Linked DNA regions of Homo sapiens: region 2 is linked to region 1. Evidence: fine-mapped expression QTL. Tissue or cell type: subcutaneous fat. Region 1 holds a variant in brackets; the other region holds the start of a gene. All regions are shown on one strand. Distances are from middle to middle.

Region 1 (8,106 bases):
GGATTACAGGCATGAGCTCCCACGCCCGGCCTCAATACTGTATTCTTACAATACAGTAAGCTAGAGAAAAGAAAATGTCATGAAAGAAAATCATAAGGAAGAAAAAATAGATTTGCTATTTATTTATTTATTTATGATGTTAGCAAATATGTTCTTTTTTTTTTTTTGAGACGGAGTCTTACTCTGTCACCCAGGCTGGAGTGCAGTGGCATGATCTCAGCTTGCTGCAAGCTCTGCCTCCTAGGTTCACGCCACTCTCCTGCCTCAGCCTCCTGAGTAGCTGGGACTACAGGCGCTCATCACCATGCCTGGCTAAATTTTTTTGTATTTTTAGTAGAGACGGGGTTTCACCGTGTTAGCCAGGATGGTCTCGATCTCCTGACCTCGTGATCCGCCTGCCTCGGCCTCCCAAAGTGCTGGGATTACAGGCGTGAGCCACCATGCCCAGCCAATATATTCTTTTTTTAAACTTTCATTTTCAATGGATCATCCTAAAGGTCTCCATTCTCACTGTCTTCACGTTGAGGAGCAGGAGGAGGAAAAGGAGGGGTTGGTCTTGCTGTCTCAGGGATGGCAAAGGTAGAAGAAAATTCACGTATAAGTTGAAAGCTGTGTTCTTCAAGGGTCAACTACATGCACACACAAACACATTCTATTAGTTCTCTTTTATCCTGACTAATACATCAGGCAACAGGTGTAATGTACATCAACGTTATAAATTCAGTTTTCCACTCACTTAGTATCCTTGCAAATGGTGAAATTATACATTGCACAATTGTTGAACATGCTACATAGGACATGAACATTTATGTCTGTTGTAAAACCTACGAGCGGAGAGTGCAAACCAGAAAAGGAAACCATTTTCAGACCTCTGAGAAGCTGTGCTGTGTATGTGTATGGGAAACCTCACACCCTCAAAGTCATTAGAAACCAGGGTATTTAACCACATGGTCTGAGCCACCAGAACTGCTCCAAATTGGAGGGCAGTTTGTAATTGTAGTGATTCTTTTGTTGGTTGTCAACTTACAGGCCATGCCTTGTCCTTTATTCTTTCTTTCTTTGGAGACAGGGTCTTGCTCTGTCTCCCAGGCTGGAGTGCAGTGGTGCAATCATAGCTCACTACCGCCTTGACCTCCTGGGATCAAGTGATTCTCCCACCTCCCACTCCCAGGTAGCTGGGAATACAGGTGTGCACCACCATGTTGGGCTAATTTTTTTATTTTTTATAGACAAGGTCTTGCCATGTTGCCCAGACTAATCTTTAACTCCTGGGCTCAAGTGATCCCCCCACCCCAGCCTCCCAAAATGCTAGAACTACAGGCATGAGCAATCATGTCTGGCCTTGCCTTGTCCTTTGAAAAGAAGGAGGACGCTTCAGGAAAGAAGAAACAGAATAATATAAGATATACAAAATGCAACTAAAAATAGGATATAAAGAATACAGATTATAAATGAGTGATAGAAAACCAGGGTGATATGACAGTGAGGGCTGACAATGAAACCACGAGGATGAACACAGATGATGATGTGTCTGTACTTTCTGGCAGTCTAAATAAAGAAAGAACATAGTCCTTGACAGTTTTCAATATTAAATAGAAGAAAGTGTGGTGCTATTTAAGAAGCAAATCCTTTTTTGATACTGGACTCCCATTTTCTTGGGACTTCCTATATATAGAGGAGAGATACATAAAGTGGACACAGTCTTTCCAGATATTTCAGGAGCTGACTCAGTGATCAATTTCACAGGGATGTTTATAAATGCATCCTTTAATAGCAGTTGCTGGCAGCTCTTGAAACACAAATACCAAGGCATGGCAGTAATAATCAAATTATCTACAGCCTGGGTGACGGAGTGGGACTCTGTCTCAAAAAAAAATAGCTAGTCTGATTGAAATAAGAATATATCTCATTATGGTTTCAATTTGCTTTTCTCTGATGATTGGTCATGTTGAGCAATTTTTCATATGCTTTTTGGCCATTGATATGTCTTCTTTTGAAGACTGTGTGTTCATGTTCTTTAACCACATTTTAATAGGGTTATACGGATTTTTTTCGTTATTGTTGAGTTCCCTGTAGATTCTGAATATTAGTTGGATGCAGAGTTTGCAAATATTTTGTCCCATTTTGCAGGTTATCTCTTCCTGATTGAACCTGATATACTAGAGATTCTGCATATGTTGCCAACATAGGAAAGCTCACTCTAAGAGAAACTTCAAGAACCCCCCACTCCTGGCATTCATTCCCTTGTATAATCATTTTCCCTGAGTGTAGGCAGGATGCACGACTTGCTTCTAATGAACACAATGTGTTGACTGCAATGGAATGCAATTACCAAAATTAGGTTACACAAAGGCTGTGGCTTCCATATTCCTCATCCCCCTCACTGGCTTGATTGGGTGCTTGCTATGAGGGAAGTCAGCCTGTGCGTCGTAAGCTTCCCAATGGAGAAGTCCACGTGACTCAGAATGAAAGGAACCTTCTGGACAACAGCCAGTGAGGAACTGAATCCCACCAACAGCAATGTGAGTGAGCTTGGAAGCAAATCCCTCTGCAGTCAAGCCCTGAGATGCTGTAGCCCCCACCTCCACCTCAACTGCAAACTCCTAAGAGACCCTCAGCTGTGAGACCCAGCTAACCATGCCGGCTCATCCTCAGATCCCAAGCCCACAGAAACCAAGACAATACATGTGTGTTGTGTGTGGCTTTAAATGGCTCAGTGTTGGGGTTAATTTGTTACACAGCCATAACTAACAGGGTTATGAGTCACTACCAAGGATAACATATATTTAACCTTTCTAAAGTGTGTTTTATCATTGAATCTGTTTTGAATGAACCATCCTGTGAGGTTAGGATTCTGTGGACTACCTACTCGTGAAGCGAAATTCTCTCCTAGAATGTGGAGGAAGTTTTTTCATCCTGGAAAAAATATACATAGGCAGTAACGACAAACCTGCAGCATTATTGCTAATAATAATGATAATTATTATTAGTATTACCACTATTTTATGTTACAGGATATCTATTCATGAGGTACTGGTTGTCTACCAAGTCAAACCTTCTCAATCTTTGTTCTTACCCCAGTCAGGCTTCACCAGAATTCCAGGGAATCCAGGCTGGCTGAACTCACTCAATTCTCAGAAGAATTTCTTGAGCTTTCCAGCACTCAGGATCAGAAGAGAGAAGGAGCCATCCTTCACCCATAGAGGACGGAAGGAGATGGAGAAATAGCTTCCTCTTTCATCTCCCCAGTGCAGCCTTACAGTTATCCTAAAAAACTGTAGTTGCAACTTTGGCAGCAAATCCAGTCATAAATCCTCAAATGGGCTTTTCCTCTTTTCCTGTTTCACGTCCTTCCCTCCACTTCCTGAGCTCCTGCTCCAGGAAGGGAATGGGCTCCATTTCCAAATAAATAATTGCACAGAAACCTCGGTCTCCTCTTCTGCCCTGAGTGCTTCTGTGAGGATAGGTTACCTACAAGATAAATTATTGGAGACACTAAAAACAAACAAAAAAGAGTGCACGGTGTTCTTGGAAATCAATTCATTGTATTTTTGTAACATCTACAAAATAACATTGTCTTTATTCTTAAAATAATAATTCATAGGACCTTTCTGGCTATCTGGTTCTTAATTAGTCCCAGATGAAAGTTATGGAAAGAAAAATAGCAACTAGAGGTATTCTGGTTAAGTATTTGAATTGTGAGAAGAAAGAAAAATATTTTAGAAATACCTCACAGAAAAGTGCTCACACACACTCACATACACACACACACACGCAACACACACACGCACACATACACACACATAAACACACACATGCACATACACACGTGCACATACACACATGCACATACATGCACATACACACATGTGCACACGCATGCATGCACACACATGCAGACACGTGCACACATGCACACATACAGTACACACATACACACGCACATACACACACATGCACATACACACACACGCACACATACACACATACACACATGCACATACGCACACACACTTACACATGCACACACGTGCACACACACATGCACATACACACGTGCACACACATACACACACGCACACACACGCGCATACACACATGCACATACACACACACAGTGTCAAACTGATGAGGGGCTAATACCTAAACTATACAAAGTACGCCTATTATTATTATTTTTTAAAAATAATCTTTCTACTTTTTTTTTTTTTTGAGACAGAGCCTCACTCTGTCACTTAGGCTGGAGTTCAGTGGTGCTATCTCGGCCCACTGCAACCTCCGCCTCCTGGGTTCAAGCGATTCTTGTGCCTCAGCCTCCTGAGTAGCTGGGATTACAGGCGTGCACCACCACGCCCAGCTAATTTTTTGTATTTTTAGCAGAGATGGGGTTTCGCCATGTTGGCCAGGCTGGTCTCAAACTCCTGGGCTCAAGCGATCCTCCTACCTCAGCCTCCCAAAGTGCTGGGATTACAGGCATGAGGCACTGCTCCTGGCCAGTATGCCTATTAAGATGAAAATAAAACCCACGAGGAAAGGCAAAATGGGTAGCAATGATAATTCTTACAAGAAGAAACTCGAATAGTTTGAATGCATATAGCAGACAGGGTG[A/T]TCTCTCCCATCCCAAAGATGTCATGTCCTACTTCCCAGAGCCTATACAAGTGTTATGCACCATGGCAGTAGGAAATTCAGGTTGTATATGGAATTAAGTTTTCTCTCATCAGTTGATCTTAAAATAAGGGGAGTATCCTGAGTAACACAGGTGGTCCCTTGTGACCACTAAGGTCCTTAAAATGTTGCGGGGAGGGAGAACTAGAGAGGTGGCAACTTGAGAAAGACTAGACCTGGTGGCTATGGCTGGCTTTGCAGATGGAGAAAGGGGCCATGAGTCAAGAAACATTGGTAGCTCCCATTAAACCAAAAGTAACTGAGACAGATTTCAATCAGTTTAGAAAGTCTATTTTGCCAAGGTTAAGGGTGTGCCCTTGACACAGCCTCAGGAGGTCCTGATGACATCTGCCTAAGCTGGCTGGAGTACAGCTTGGTTTTATGTATTTTAGGGAGACATGACACATCAATCAATACATGTAGGATGTATATTTGTTTGGTCCAGAAAAGCAGGACAACTCAAAGTGGCAGGAAGAGGGGCTTCCAATTGGTTGAAAAAGTTATTATCAGTAGAAAGGAATGTCTGGGTTATGATAAGGGGTTGTAGAGACCAAGGTTTTATGATGAAGATGAAGCCTCCAGGTAGCAGGCTCCAGAGAGAATAGATTATAAAGGTTTCTTATCAGAGTTAGAGAGTCTGTTCTATCAGTGATTCCAAAAGGGAGGAGGGCATGATGAGGCATGTCCAGCTTCCACTTCCCATCATGGCCTGAACCAGTTTTTCAGGTTAACTTTGGAGTGCCCTTGGCTGAGAGGAGGGATCAGTTCAGATAACCAGGGAGCAGGGGTGCAGGGGTGGGGAGGGGGTGTTAGGATTTTATTTTTAGTTGACACTCCTAAAAGCTAGAAATGGCAAGAAAATAGATCCTCCCTGTGTAGAGCCTCCAGAAGGAACGGGGTCCTGCCAATATGTCAATTTTATCCCAGGGAGACTCATTTTGGACTCTGACTTTCAGAACTGGAAGATACTCAATGTGTGTTGTTTTAAGCCACTGAACTTGTGGGAATGCATTGCAACATCCCTAGAAAACTCATTCAATGAGTACGAGGAGATGCCAAAATCAAAATGTAATGAGAAATAAAAATGAAGATAATAAGATATCACTTTATACAATTAGAGGAGAGGGAGGAGGAATAAGAAGAGAGGGAGAAAGAGGAAAAACATATTTTGTTGCATTTTTTTTCAGGCAGTGTTATTGAGTCAGCGTTTTTCCTATCCTACAGGAGTACATGTTAATAAGGCAGCCTGTTATTGAAACATGGTACAGACAAGGCCAGTTTCAGTCTTGCAAATGGATGAGAGAAAGCCTGGAATATTCCTGGCTGGTTTATCAACCTACTGTCCTCAAACTGGGCACTGAAATATTTGACTAAAATGTTCTCATTTTATCACCCTACAGACCCATGTAACAGCAACCACAGGAGACTCACACACTCATCATCCTGCTGTTCAAATTTCCCACAAGACAAATGCACCCCAGGCCTTTTGCACCTGCTGGCCCCTCTTCTTGGAATCTTCTTTCTCCAAAAACTGAATTATTTATTCCAACACCACCTCCTCAGAATAGCTTTTCACCTGTCCCTTTCCAAAATTACCTTCTCCTTCCTCTTTGCCCTGATTCACTTTTGGAAACAGTTCCTATGTGAGGTTAGTGTTTATTGTACTGTGTCTGACTCTTTGTCTAGAATGTGAACTCAATGGAAACGTCAGTGTTCTCACTCATGGCCCTGTCTAGGGTTAGGGGTAGGGGTAGGGTTAGGGTTAGCAGTAGGGTTAGGTTAGGGTTAGGCATCCTGGAGCCATCAATAGCTATTGAAAGAATGAATGAGCATGGCCAGGTCTATGTTTAGAGGGTCGACTTCTGGACAGGGACATAATATCTTCTTAAGCAGTGAGGAGGACAGCAAGAGCCATCAGGCTGTCATAGGGAAAGAGTAGAAGTGCACCTATTGCCAGTGGAAATCAGAGTTAGGGGACACTGCATGGGTCTCTCTGATTCTGAGACACCCAACCACATTGTGAGCCTCCTTCCTTGAGTGGTCTGGGCCCCAGTTACCTGTGATGGCCTTTAAGTTTACTTTGGAAGTCACCTGTGAGCATCCAGAAACACCTGCACCAATGGTTCTGCCTATAGGGATTGGACTTCATTGGTCCTGGGTGTAGTCTGGATTCTGGGAGTACAAATGTTCCATTGCCAAAGGTCCATGGCCAAATCTACATCCTATATGTCTGTGGTCTTGGGACACTTAGAAGTTTTCTATACACATTTTTCAAAGAGTTGTTCCAATAGAGAGGCAACATATCTCTAGCCTTCTCTTTCTCCTTCCCCCCATACTATTTCTCAGTAGAAGAGTTGTTGTCTACTGCCAATTGGAAAACACTCACTTGGCACACTGCACATCTTTTCCCTTACGTGATTCTATTGTGAGACACAATGTCCCTCCTTTTATCCCTTCAAATTCTCCCTGGTCTTCAAATTGCATCATACATCACGTGCTGACACTAGCTACCTTTGTTTTGGGTCTACACTTTTGTTCTCATGGCATCTCTTGAGGTAGCCCATGAATTCCTACATTGCTTCTGAGAATAAATGACAGGCATTCCTTAGGGTTGAAAAATATTGGCCATTCTCTTTGGGAGCTAAAAGGAAAATATTGCCCACTCAATCACTTTCTCTTTATTACTTTCCATTTCTATTCTTTATGATACTCGTGGAAAATTAAAAGTCAGCCAGTTCCACTTATGGCTGAACACATGGCCAAAAAACAGAGTTGGCCTCAAATAAAAGAAAATTACAGCATTTTTCTCCCTGTAGAGAACTATATGTCATAAATATAGATGGATAGTACAACAACTCTTACATCCTTAAGGGATAGACACCCATGTGCAGACACATGTTTTGTCTAAATCAAGTTTAAAATTGGGTTTGATTTACTCTTCTGAGGAAAATATAACCTTCTTTATAAGAAAGATTGGCAAATTCAGGATCTCCCATTTTCCCTGACCCATGGCATCCTCTGCCTCCCACATCCCAAACCAGTTTGATGCTCACTATACATTTGTTTCTGTCTTGGGATCTAGGCATTATCATATCCATTTAGAGGTTGTTAGACTCACAAGAAGAACATTTGCACTCCCAGAATTCAGACTACATCCAGGTCCAGTGAAGTCAAATCTATGTAGTTAGAACCATAGGCGCAGGTGTTTTTGGAAGCTCACAGGTGACTTCCAAAGTCAGCTTAATGGTCATCACAGGTGACTTCACTGTGTGTCTGGAGCCAAAACCACTTATGGAAGAAGTCTGATATGGTTTGGTTGTGTCCCCACCCAAATCTCATCTTGAATTCCCACGTGTTGTGGGAGGGGCCTGGTGGGAGGTAATTGAATCATGGGGGCAGGTCTTTCTTATGCTGTTCTTGTGATAGTGAATAAATCTCATA
Region 2 (8,106 bases), 450 kb after region 1:
CAGCAGCAGCCAGGTGTGGTGGCACACGCCTATAATGCCAGCTACTCAGGAGGCTGAGGCAGAAGAATTGCTTGAAGCCGGGAGGCAGAGGTTGCAGTGAGCTGAGGTCGTACCACTGCACCCCAGCCTGGGTGACAGAGCAAGACTGTCTCATCAAAAATAAATAAATAAACAAACAAACATTAATAATGCACCGTTGAATGATCACTCAGACACCAAACTGGAGAGGCAAAGTATCTCCTGCAGTCGGGGAGGAGTCTGTCAATGGACCCCAGCTCAGTCTGGAAGAGGCTGCCCTGTAGCCCAAAACAGCACAAGTCCCAGCAAAGGTGTCTCTGTGACCTACAGGTTTGCACATGAACAGGAGATAGGCCCCAAAGATAAAAACTGGCACTGATGTGGCTTTGTCTGTGGTGCCCATTTATAGTGTTTGTTTATCGTTTACGGCCACAAGGATGAGCCGTGCTTCCCGTTGGAACTGTTTTCAAGTGGTTTTCCTTTGTCTCCAATGCCCCAGGTGATTTGGGCAAACTCTGGCTGTGGAAGCCGCGCTGTGCAGGAAGTGTTCGCCCCAGCTCTGAGCTGCAAGGTCATTGCATAATCAGGCTGCGCCTTAATTGTCTGGGCTGCTAGAATGAAAATACCATAAACTGGGTATCATCAAGAATATTTCTTTCTTGCAGTTCTAGAGGCTGGATGTCCAAGACCACGGCGTGACGGAAGCTGTGTCTGGGGAGAACCTGTTTCTCGGTTCACAGCTGCTGCCTTCTTCCCATGTCTTCACACGGTCATCCCTCTGTGCCTGTCTGTGTCCTATCTCTGATTCTTGTTTTTTGTTTTTTGTTTTTTTTTGAGATGGGGTCTTGCTCTGTTGCCCAGGCTGGAGTGCAATGGCGTGATCTCAGCTCACTGCAACCTCTGCCACAGGTTCAAGTGATTCCCCTGTCTCAGCCTCCCGAGTAGGTGGGACTACAGGCGTGCACCACCATGCCCGGCTAATTTTTGTATTATTTAGTAGAGGTGGGTTTTCACCATGTTGCCCAGGCTGGTCTAGAACTCCCGACCTCAAGTGATCCGCCCACCTTGGCCTCCCAAAGTGCTGAGATTACAGGCGTGAGTCACTGCACCCGGCCCTAATCTCCTCTTCTTATAAGGACCCCACTCCTATTGGAATAGGGCCCACTCTTGTGACCTCATTTTAAAGGATGAATAAAAACCTTATTCCTGTGAGTTTGAAGGCAACACAATTCAGTCCCCAGCACATTCTCCCCTGGGAGTAAGGAGGTCTTTCCAATAGCTCTTTCTGTCTCCAGATTCAAGCAACAGGTCCCTCCTCCCACTCTTCCAAGCCTAGGTATGTGACGAGCAATGCCCCACCTTGTCACCGCCTCAAGAACATGTCCTCAAATTATCCAATCCACATCAGCCTCCAAGAATTCAGGCTGTGCATACAGACCAAAAAGTCAAATCCATCTCCAGCCAATTCTCTTGGGTCAAGAAAGAAATAGTAGGCCAGGTGCGGTGACTCACATCTGTAGTCCCAGCACTTTAGGGCACTAAGATGGCTTGAGGCCAGGAGTTTCAGACCAGCTGGGGTGACATAGCGAGACCCTGCCTCCGCATAACATTTAAATAATTAGGTGTGGTGACACGTGCCTATAGTCCCACCTACTTGGGAGGCTGAGGCGGGAGGATCACTTGAGCCTTTGGCCTCCCAAAGTGTCCAAGGCTACACTGAGCTGTGATCGTGCCACTGGGCGACAGGGCGAGACCTCATCTCTAAAAAGAAAGGAAGGAAAAAATGGCAGGAAGGAAGGAAAGCAAAGAAGCAAAAAGAAAAAGGAAGAAAGGGAGGGAGGGATGGCAGGAAGAACCAGTTAACCCCTATGGCTTTCCCCATAGCCATGGCTTATGGAACAAGACCAGCACTTTGGGTCAGCTGTGCCCGATGTTCCCGGCCCACAGAGTCACCTTTAAGTTCTTCAGCATCCACTGGGGAGAGTCACCTCTGTCTCCACACTTGCCCACACTCTTGAGCTTGATGGCTTTGAAGCCAAAGTCCCCATGGAGGCTCCATGTGCTGAAAGTCATGTGAGACCCTCAGGGTCAGGGCTTACCCACCCTTTCCATCCCCACAACCTCCCGCAAATATGACTTCTGGAGCACCAGCTCCTACTGCCCCCAGGCCCCATTTCCAAATCCTGGGCACCCAAGACAGCTCAGTGTGTTTACATAATTTACCTAAGGGCACCCAAAGTTCTTTTCTCTCTAGTTCTCAGGAATCTCAACTCCCAGCAGCATAGGATTTCTTCCAAGGATCAAATCTCCGCGCCACCCCTGCTAAACCTCCTTGCAGAACTGCTTCTGGGCTGTCTCCTGCCCCCCTCCTTCCAGGCCTCGGCCTGGCCTTCTCCATCTGCATGACAGAGGCTCAGCAAGGAATCCCAGTTGGGAAGCCCTCAAAGATAAAAAAGTTCTTTTTTAAATTTTTTTAGAGACAGGGTCTTGCTCTGTCACCCAGTCTGGAGTGCAACGGTGCAATCAGCTCACTGCAACCTCAAATTCCTGCACTCAGATGACTCTCCCACCTCAGCCTCCCAAATAGCTGGGACTACAGGCACACCACCATGCCCGGCTAACTTAAAAAAATTTTTTTGTAGAGACAGGGTCTCTCTGTGTTTCGCAGGCTGTTCTCAAACTCCTGGTTTCAAGCAATCCTTCCCCCTCAGTCTCCCAAAGTGCTGGGATTACAGGTGTGAGCCACCAAGCCTGTCTGATAAAAGCTATTTCAGAGTAACAGGGCAAAGAGAGAAGCAATAAACAGTGCTCAAGAGCTAGCTCCAGACAGATGGCCAGCGTAATAAATGTAAATGAACTAAATTTGCCAATTAAAAGTGAATGGTCTTTTTTCTAAATAGAATTCCCAGCACCATTTTGGGAGATTCCAATTGAATAAATTTAGGGAGTAGGGCTCCTGACTGTATTGTCTTGAACAAGCACCCCCATCATCTCATCCCAGGGGAGTGTGGGGCAGCTCCCTCATTTATGAAAATCCTAACTCAGTGAATTTAAGGAGGGGCTTCTGAATCTATGTTTTCAACACAAACTTCCACCCCGCCTCCCCTACCTTACTGATTCCATTTGGTAAGCATAGAGAACTGAGTTGCAAAGGAAAAAAAAATGGCATAAATGTTGGAGGCAGAATAATGGTGAGGAGGACCTGGATATGCTTCCCACCTACACACCCAACATAGAGTCTTGTGGCTGGTCAGGCACAGTGGCTCACCTGTAATCCCAGTACTTTGGGAGGCCAAAGCAGGAGGACTGCTTGAGGCAAGAGTTTGAGACCAGCTTAGGCAACATAGTGGGACCTAGTCTCTAGCAAAAAAATAAATTAACAAAAATGTGTCAGGGGTGGTGGTGCACACCGGTAGTTCCACTTCCTTGGGAGGCGGTGACAGCCTCACCCTTGACAGCCTCAGCCTTGGAAAAAGAAAGTACTGTTAATCTTGAAGACTATGGAATCATTTTGTCCCTGACCAGTGGAAGAGGACCTAAGCAACCCCCTTTGAGGGAAAGTGGGTCACCTGGGCTGGAGGTAGGGATGTGATATTGTTTTGTAAGCTAGCATTTCCTACAAAATATGAATTTATACTTTGACCAGATCTTGCATTGTGAGGGGATGTGAGGGGATGAGGTAAGACATGAAGGGGCTTGAGAGAATCAGCGACTGGAGGTCAAGAGAGTTAGACAAAAACAAAGGCTCACTGCAGCCTCAACTCTCAGCCTTGATCTTTCTAGAGGTCAAAAGAGTTAAAAACAAAACAAACAAACAACAAAGGGAGAGCCAAAGATACAAAAAAAGCATTACGTGAGAGGGTAATGAGCAAAATAGCATCATTCAAAAACAAAAGGATGAGTCACAGAAAAGATGGGGAGGGGTCCAGGGCACAGTGATTAATCAAAAGGAGTAATTTCAACAGCAGTCTGATGAAAGAAACAAAGATAAAAATAGCAATTGGAATTAGCCGGGCGTGGTGGCACGCGCCTGTAGTCCCAGCTACTCGGGAGGCTGAGGCAGGAGAATCGCTTGAACCCAGGAGACGGAGGTTGCACTGAGCCGAGATCGCACCACTGCACTCCAGCCTGGGCGACAGAGTGAGTCCCTATCTCAAAATAATAATAATAATAGTAATAAAAGCAAAAAAAAAGGGCCCATCTAGCATTCCCCGTCCCAGACTTAGAGTACAAGTCCAGCATCCGGAACAGACATTTCAAACACCAAGCTTTGAGAAACTGAAATCGCAACTTGATTGCTCTGGGTAGGTCCTAAGACCCTTCCTGACAAAAAGAAAAGGGGCTCCCTGTGCTCAAGCCTAACTGGGTTTATTTTTTATTTTTATTTATTTATTTTTTGAGACGGAGTGTCACTCTGTCGCCCAGGCTGGAGTTGCAGTGGCGCGATCTCAGCTCACTGCAACCTCCACCTCCCGGGTTCAAGCAACTCTCCTGCTTCAGCCTCCCGAATAGCTGGGACTACAGACGTGAACTACCACACCCAGCTAATTTTTGTATTTTTAGTAGAGACGGGGTTTCACCAGGTTGGCCAGGCTGGTCTCGAACTCCTGACCTCAGGTGACCCACTCGTCTTGGCCTCCCAAACTGCTGGGATTCCAGGCGGGAGCCACCGCGCCCGGTCAATCGTAACTGGGTTTAATCAGCTCCTTAGCCCAGGCCTTCCCGTGTGACGACCTGGGAAAACCTGTTTCCACGCGCAGGTCCCGGAGGTCCCGAGAGCCAGGAGATGACGCGGATGAAGGAGGGGCGGGCGCCCGGCCCAGATCCCGCAGCTGAGAGGGCGGAAGCCTTGGCACTAGCGGCGCCCGGGCGCGGAGTGCGCAGGGCAAGGTCCTGCGCTCTGGGCCAGCGCTCGGCCATGCGATCCGCCGCGCGGAGGGGACGCGCCGCGCCCGCCGCCAGGTGCCTGGGACCCCGGGACGCGGCCCATACTAAGGCCTAGGGTGGGGGCCTGGGGAGGGGGTCGCGAGCACGGCGAGGGGCGCCCCGGGCGAGCCTGGGCCCCTGTAAAGGGCGTGGTTGTGTCCGGCGCCTTGTAGTCTCCAAAATGTAGCTGGAGGCGCGTTCTGTGCCCGGGAAAGACGCCAGACAGCAGAGCCCAGGGATGGGGGGCGACTGAGGGGACGAAGGGCGGGTGGAGGAGACCGAACTGAAGGGAAGGCGGAAGGGCAGGGAAAGAGAACAAAGGAGGAAGGGAAGGGAGGGCGGAGGAAGGCTGGCCGGGACCCGGAGGGAGCGGAAACTGGGCCGGTCACGCCCTGCTGGGTCCTCCGCCTTCCACGCCCAGCTACACCGCTGCCCGGATTCGGCCTTCAAAGGCTCCCTAAGACCCGCCCCGAACCGCGCCCCCCGCTCTGCCCCACTAAGACGCGCCCCGTCCCGCCCCAAGGCTCCATCCCCCGAAGCGTAGCCTTGCCCGCCCCACTTCCTAAGAGGCACCCCGTCCCGCCCCCAACCCCCCAGCTCGATGCCTTCCAGCACGGCCGTGTTCCCCGGGTCCACTAAGACGCTCCCTGTCCCTCCCCAACGCCCCGTCCTCCCGAGCACAGCTGTGACGCCCTCCCGATTTCTAAGAAGGCCCCTTCCCGCCCCCCGCCTCTTCGGCCCCACCATGACATGCTCCATCCCGCCCCCCGGCCCTTTGCCTTCCCAGCACGGCTGTGCCCTCCCCCTCATCCCACTAAGACGCGCCCCGTCCTTCCCCCAGACCCCATCCTCCCAAGCACGGCTGTGACTCCCCCAACACGCTCGGTAAGACACGCCCCTTTCCCCCCCGTGGGCTTCATTGGGCGCCCTCCCCCCAGCACCGCCGTGCCTACCCCGGTCACCCCCCAAGACTTCTCTGTCCCGTCCCCATCTCCACCACAAGCGCGGCCGTTACTTCCCTCTGGCCATCCCCCGGCGCCTTGGCCTTGTGCCGCCTCCATGTCCCCACCCTCTAGCACCGCCATGCCCCGCTGCACTTCCTCAGATGCGCCGGGTCCTGCATTCCCAGCTTCATTTGCGCCCCAGTGCCACCGGTAGAGGGTCGTGACTGCAAGTTGTCCAGGTTCTTGGCGTTTTGAACAAAGAATTGGACAAAACGCCCAGCAAAGAAAGAATGAAGCAACAAAAGAAGGAAAGCAGGGATTTATTGAAAACAAAAGGACACGTCACAGTGTGGGAGCCGACCAAGCAGCGGCTCAAGGGCCCGGGTACATAATCTTCTTGGGTCCAAATACCCCCTAGAAGTTTCCCATTGGCCACTTCATGCTCACCTCATGTAACTGAAGTGGTGGCCCGCGATCAGTCTGATTGGTTGCAGGCAGCAGCCAACCAAAGGGTGAAGTTACAAAGGTCACACTCCTGTGCAAACATCTGATTGGTTGCAAAACCCAACTAATCAGAGACTAGGGTGAAGTCACAAAGTTGCACACGAAGACTAGACCCGAAATCAGTCCGATTGGTTGCAGACAGCCAGTCTACTATCTACCCAATAGAAAAGGTCAAAGGGAAGCCTTCGGTCCTTTTGTTACTTAGGCATGGAAAGTTAGGATTTTCCCGCCAGGCGAGGTGGCTCATGCCTGTAATCCCAGCACTTTGGGAGGCCGAGACGGGTGGATCACCTGAGGTCAGGAGTTTGAGACCAGCATGGCCAATATGGTGAAATCCCGTCTCTACTAAAAATACAAAAATTAGGCCGGGCCTCTACTAAAATTACAAAAAAATTAGCCGGGCGTGGTGGCAGGCACCTGTGATCCCAGCTACTCAGGAGGCTGAGACAGGAGAATCGCTTGAACCCTGGAGGTGGAGGTTGCAGTGAGCCCGGATCATGCCATTGAACTGCAGCCTGGGCGACAAGAGTGAAACTCCATCTCAAAAAATAATAATAAAAATTAAAATTAAAAAAAAAAGGAAAGTTAGGATTTTCCTTTCAATTTACTTCTAGGAAGTCGGCATGGAAAGCCTTAGGTTCCCTGCCTCCAGACCCTATTCTCCTGCCTCAGCAGCACTGCCGTGCCTCTCGCCACCCTCCAAGACACGCCCCGTCCTGTCCCCTTCCGCGGCCATTGCCCTGCTGGCCACACCGGATCCCTCCCCATGGCCTTATTCCTCCCCTGCCCCCCAGTAGAGCCGTGTCCCCTCACACACCCTGAGACACACCCCTCGTTCGCGTCCTCCCCGGAGAGCACAGCCACGATCCCCCAACACTAAGACACCACCTATCCACTGCAGTTCAAGGACTGCTTGAATCAATCCTCCCACCTCAGAATCAGGCAGAGGTTGCTGTAAGCCACCATCATGCCACTACAGCCTGGGCAGCACAGCAAGACCCCATCTCAAAAAAAAGAAAAAAAAGAATAATAAAGCAGATTGGTTGTTTCAAAGTTACTTTTCTTACAGGGTTAAAGCACGGGAGACTTTGTTAGCTCAGATGAACTACACATCTTCTTCTTGCTTACTCAAATCTTCTGTTTTTTGGAAAACTGACCTGTTTCCCTGTTCAGCTTGACGATGTGGCAGTTAACACAAGTGACTCCATTCCAGTTTGTTCTGACCTGTATGGTCTAGTGTGGCAGGCCAGGTCTCACTAATGCAGGCCTCCGTAACAACTGTTTCAGCACTGACTGAGTGTGAAGTTACATACTAAAAGCTGAAACAACCAGCGCCTTTATGCACAGGCTGGGATGTAACAAAAGCACACCAAGAGTTCTGCCCAGGCCTCTCCTGGGCCTTTGAAGCATGACAAGATAACGAAGGAATTCTTAACAGGACCCATTTAGGATTAAACAAGTTTTATTGTGGGTCTGAAGAAACTCCCCAGACCTCCACAAACAAGCTTTGTTGGGGACTAAAGGAACTCCCCAGAACTCTGTGATTTAGCAGGAGACAAGATAAGGGTAATCACCCCAGCACCTGGACCCATCTAGATTAAGTCAATTCACCGAGGCTCCAGAGGAAGGTCTTCAGGACTCAGATCTTAATTACAGATTAGAAGAAGTTAATCACTTATGTCTTTAGATAAATGCACACTTACACTTAGACATA

Alleles and levels. Positions count from the first base shown, and alleles are read on the strand shown. Sizes are in standard deviations (SD) of each study's normalised expression.
For the expression in subcutaneous fat of the gene that starts at base 4,873 in region 2, T is the high allele of the variant in region 1 and A is the other (moderate effect, 0.73 SD a copy in FUSION).

The links. PIP is the estimated chance that this variant, and not a neighbour inherited with it, causes the effect.
Region 2: it holds the start of ARSD, and the variant in region 1 is fine-mapped to the expression of ARSD in subcutaneous fat (FUSION, PIP 0.95).

Annotation. Positions count from the first base shown.
Region 1 is chrX:3,373,597-3,381,702 of GRCh38, reverse strand. No RefSeq gene overlaps it. Among named protein-coding and RNA genes, the nearest start is that of MXRA5, 31 kb to the right of the region's middle. The variant A/T (reference allele first, on the strand shown) is at 4,609.
Region 2 is chrX:2,926,106-2,934,211 of GRCh38, reverse strand. It overlaps ARSD (arylsulfatase D), which reads left to right and starts at 4,873. Exons shown (of 10, transcript NM_001669.4): 1 at 4,873-4,980. The coding sequence starts at 4,937. RefSeq lists silencers at 4,856-5,205, 5,226-5,385.